Regions from separate parts of the Homo sapiens genome. Here region 1 is linked to region 2. A link means that fine-mapping ties the variant in region 2 to the expression of a gene that starts in the linked region. Tissue or cell type: whole blood. Region 2 holds a variant in brackets; the other region holds the start of a gene. All regions are shown on one strand. Distances are from middle to middle.

The links. PIP is the estimated chance that this variant, and not a neighbour inherited with it, causes the effect.
Region 1: TNFAIP6 starts here. The variant in region 2 is fine-mapped to the expression of TNFAIP6 in whole blood (TOPMed, PIP above 0.99).

Annotation. Positions count from the first base shown.
Region 1 is chr2:151,356,527-151,359,216 of GRCh38, reverse strand. It overlaps TNFAIP6 (TNF alpha induced protein 6), which reads right to left and starts at 1,625. Exons shown (of 6, transcript NM_007115.4): 1 at 1,457-1,625. The coding sequence starts at 1,550. All of the region lies in intron 2 of LOC101929319 (a long non-coding RNA gene), which reads left to right.
Region 2 is chr2:151,324,027-151,326,716 of GRCh38, reverse strand. No RefSeq gene overlaps it. Among named protein-coding and RNA genes, the nearest start is that of TNFAIP6, 32 kb to the left of the region's middle. The variant T/A (reference allele first, on the strand shown) is at 1,088.

The sequences.
Region 1 (2,690 bases), 32 kb before region 2:
CCAACTATAAACATCTGTGCTAGGCTGGCTGGTCAAAAATTTGCCCCAGATTGAAGCAATTTGCAATTATCCTGACCCTCAGATTTGTAGCATACATTAATAGACGTTTGAATTTGCTTCTCTCTACCTCTGGGGCAAAACTTCTATTGTCCAGGTTTATATTTTTGTAACATATGACAACACTTTAAAAGACAACTCTAAATTACTTGATTATTAGAGGGTTTGATAATATTTCAAAGTTTATCTGCCTGGATTTAATTCTTACTAGCTTTATGACATTTAAAAAAAATCCTGACAAATATGAGTGTATTTCCTATATTTGACTGTATTCAACTAAAATAAAGAGATGGGCTCATTCCTCTACTAAATTTCAGATCCCGTCTTGGCCAAATGGATCACAGTGAAATTAGTTCACTGGCTCAAGCTGAAAAAAATAGGCGGCAAGGCTGTGCATTACAAATTAGGCTTTTTAATGAAATCCGCATGGTTGCAGTTATTACCAGAGAGAAACATGCTGAAAGGGAAAATATTCTACAACTGTGCTGTTTAGAAAGCATAAAATCAAAATCTAGGTTAATTTCGCCTTCTCTTTATTTCTTTATTCTATGCAAGAATCTATGCATTTTTCCCCAAGAAATTCAATTTTTTTTTACTATTAAACACAATAATGAACATAGAGCAATATCAATTTGTATCATGAGAATTAAAGCATTGTTTAGCATACTGTAATCTAAGGGGTGTTTTGGATTTTCTGCATTTTCCTTTTTTGATCTATTGTTTATCTTCACTGTTTGGCCTGTCTCATTCCTTACATTTAACAAAACAAAATAACAAAAGAAACTTTCCTTGTCTAACAAAAGGGTCAGAAAAGTATTTATATGGATAGTAGAAACAGAAAGAATCAAAGTGGTAAGAATGCATTCAGAAGGAGAAACATTTTTCACTTTTTTCTGTACTGCAAGCTGGCTTGGTCAAAATAGTCAAAATGTTTGAAAAAACTAAGATATAGACTATAGCTCAGAGTCCATGAAGCAATTATTATAAAATTTTCGTAGACTCCAATTTACCTGTTAGGATTCTGAAATCTGATTGCAAATGCATTGACATAAAAACAGAAGACTATATTGGAGTTTCTAGTTGGTTAAAGAAATACTCCTCACTGTACTACTACATCTGCTTTGAAAAGTTTAAAAATATATTTTCATACTGAATATAAATATTAACTGCTATTTTCTACTGAACAATTCACTTTATAAAATGCTATTTTTAAATTTTAGAGGACAAGAACGCTTAAAAAAAAAAAAGCGTATGTATTCCAAAGGCTATCTTTCCTAAGCATTTTCTTTGAGAACATCAGCCTTGTACAGAATAGAAAAAGTTACTGCTTTAAATTTCCTTCTCCATGATTTAAAGAATTGACATTCTCAACAAGAGGCTCATGAGTGAAGGTTCTTACCAAGCCATATGGAGTTATGAAAAATTCCATCCTTGAATCCCCATCCTTGAGTGTCTTCCCATAGCAAGAGAAATAAGTAAATTAAGATGATCATATCGTCAGTTGTAGTGAAGTAACAGCCTGTTAGGGGCTGCTCACAAATTCTCAGAGCAGTGGCTGAAATGTGACTGAAACATCTGGTTTCCACATCTTTTAAATAGTTTTTTTCAACTGTGAGGTCAGCAAGTACTCTCCAATGGCATTTTCCGCTGTAGAGTTACACAATTATCTCAGTGTCTGAAGCAAATCCTCTGACTCATTTGCATTGGCAACCAAAACTAAGGAGATAGAATGATCATCTATGTTTTAAAATTAACTTACTAAGAACGGAGTTCATTTATTGTTAGTCACAAACACTTTTCTGTTAGAAAGTTTGTGTAACTTGATGCAGATTTAGCAGTGATTAAAAGAAAATCGAACTTCAGTAGGAATTTCAAGATAAATCCTAAATGTCTTATTTGCAGTGTCAATTATGGGATATGGGGTTAAACACTAATCTTTTATTGGTAATGTTGGACTGGCTTTTCTAAACATTGTCAAGCCTGTGTAAAAAATTTAAAACAAAAAGTATGCACAGCTTGGAGAATCCTAATTTTTCTCCAGTGATATATGACTTCCTTATTCTCTGCCTGCTTTTCTTCCAGGGTGGGGTCTGTTGCAGTCTTTGGTGTGTTATGGTCAGCAGCTAAATAAATGTATCAGCTCCCAGAAAAGTATTTCAATTTCAGAGCGTCAGGATGTTCCAGCAGCTTTGGGATGTCCTATTATAACACAGTTTTCCCAGGCCACAAATTCTTGAAGTGTTGGGAGAAAGGTGGGTAGACTAACAAAGTTAATAAAAACTTGTCCCTAGCTTCCCTAGACCACTCTAACTTTGAAGAAGACGATCAAGGTAATAGATAATAATTATTACAGTAAAGTCATCATGTCTTCAAATATCCCAAACTTTCCTCTTCCTTTGTGTAGAATCCTTGGGTAACATATCTGATAATACTCCCACTACCGCTGATGCTAATGGCATTTCCTATTGTTCATTGATAGCCATTTATTGGCAACTTTTGATTTTTTTACAAAATTGGTCATTTTTTGCTACTTAGATTCTCTACTTTTGGTCTCAAATTGCTTCCCATTCACTCCTATTATAGCATTCATTTCTCCCATGCTTTCTTAGTCCCTCCAATGATGTTGGAGTTCT
Region 2 (2,690 bases):
CCTTCACCGTGTCTAGATTCTTGTGTTGGGAGAAGATGATATTAGGCTGATATGTTTTATTTAACATTGACCAAAAAAGTTCAGAATGTTGATATTACTTTTATTTTTAAGAAATAAAACCAGATTACTCTTTAAATATCTATTTTTATTTTTCTTTATTATTATATTTATGGGCATATAGTTTACATACAATAAAATGCACAAACATTACATGTTCAGTTCAATGAGTTTAGACAAAATAAGACAGAATACTTATAGCACCTAAGAACTTTTCCTCATGCTTCTTCCCAGGCAATATTCTTTGCTATGGTTTGAATATTTGCTCCCTCCAAAACTCATGTAGAAATGTACTTGCCCGGCTGGGTGCGGTGGCTCATGTTTGTAATCCCAGCACTTTGAGAGGCCGAGGTGGGCGGATCACGAGGTCAGGATTTCGAGACTAACCAGGCCAACATAGTGAAACCCAGTCTCTACTAAAAATACAAAAAATTAGCTGGGCATGGTGGCGCATGCCTGTAATCATGGCTACTCAGGAGGCTGAGGCCCAAGAATCACATGAATCCACGAGGTGGAGATTGCAGTGAGCCGAGATGGTGCCACTGTACACCAGCCCAGGTGACAGTGTGAGACTCTGTCTCAAAAAAGAAAAAAGTACCTGCTCTTGTAACAGTATTAAGAAGTGGGACCTTTAAGAGGTGATTAAGACACGAATGGATTGATGCTGTCTTGCACTCTCTCCCTCTCTTGCCCTTTTGCTCTTCCGTCATGTGATGATGCAGCAAGAAGGTCCTTGCCAGATGTTGGCACCTTGATATTGGACTTCTGAGCCCCCAGAACTGTGAGCCAATAAGTTTCTGTTCATTATAAATTACTCAGTCTGCGGTATTCTATTACAACAGTACAAACAAATTAAGACATCTTTCAAACCCTCAGAGTTAAGCAATGTTCCGATTTCTGTTATTGCAGATTAATTTTGCCTGTTTTGGAAATTCATATTTTGCTCAACATAATTGAGTAAAATTTTTTGAGGTTAATCTATGTTGCTGTGGGTATTGGTGGCTTTTTTTTTTTTTTAAAACTGATTCCA[T/A]TGTATAAAAATATTACACTTTTAAAATCCATTTTCTTGCTGACAGATGCAATAGGTATCCTCTTTCATGGCTTCCAGTGATCCTCACCTCCTGGTATTCATTCACATCCTTGTGTAATCTCCTCCCTATGAGGATGGGTTCAACCTAGCAACTCTTTTCTAATAAATAGAATATGGCAAACGCCATGGCGTGTCACTTCCAAGATTTGGATATAAAACATTTGACTTCCATGTCTCTTCTTCTCTGTGGTTCTTCTGGCCTGCTTGTTGTGATAAAGCAAGCTGTCATGGGGTCCACATGTCAAGGAGCTGAAGACCTCTGGCCAACAGTCAGTGAAGAACTCAGGCCATCAGTCTAACAGTCTGTGAAAAATTGAGTCTTTCCAACAGCCATGTAAGTAGACTTGGAAGTAAATCCTTCTCCAAGCAGAGCCTTGAGATGATCTCCAAATCCAATCAGCACGTTTACTGGAACCTTATGAGAGAAGATACTGCTGCTTTTTTGATGAGATTTTTGACCCGCAGAAACTGAGATAATAAACGTTGTTTCCCTTTACTTTTTGGGTAATTTGTGATGCAGCAGTGGATAGCTATTATAACAGACATTTGGTTGTTTTTAATTTTTTTTTTTTTTTTTTTTTTTTGTGATGGAGTCTCACCCTGTCACCCAGTCTGGAGTGCAGTGGTGCGATCTTGGCTCACTGCAGCCTCCACCTCCCGGGTTCGGGCGATTCTCCTGCCTCAGCCTCCCGAGTAGCTGGGACTACAGGTGCACACCACCACGCCCAGCTAATTTTTGTATTTTTCATAGAGACGGGGTTTCACCATATTGGCCAGGCTGGTCTCGAACTCCTGATCTTGTCATCCACCCGCCTTATCCTCCCAAAGTGCTGGGATTACAGGCATGAGCCACCGCACCCAGCCTGTTTTCAAATTTTGGTCAGTGTCCTATTTCATTATTTATTTTCTATTTGTTCTTTGTTTCTCTGTTTCAGTTTTCTTGCCTTCTTTTGGGTAATATATATTAATTTAAAATATGCCATTCTATCTCATCTATGGACATTTTTAGCTACACCTATTTAGTGTTATTTTTTAGTGGGTATTCTAGAGATTACAATGTTGATCTTTAACTTATCACAAACTACAAATACTGTTTTACTATTAAGTAAATAATGTAAGCCTTATATAACCATATAACTCCATTTACTCTGGTCTTTTGTGTTCTTGTTGCCATATATGCTACTTCTATAATATGTTGTTATTCTTTTGCATTAAACATATTTTACCTATACTTAAATATATTTGAAGCCAAAAGAATAGCAATGTATTGTGGCATATACATATAATTTATAGCAAAAATAATGGCAATGTATTTAAAGTGGCATTTTACGTTTACCTAGATATTCAGTAGGTGCATTTCATCATCAGAGTATTCGGTGTAAGATCTAATAATAAGACCTTATTTTGAAAGAAGAATAAGAGCCTTAGAATTCATCATCTCCAAAGAATAAATGACACCACAATATAGTAGTTACTTGGATTTCAGAGTTTGGAATCCAAGCTCTGCCACTTACTGATTATACAACATGGGGCAATGTACTCA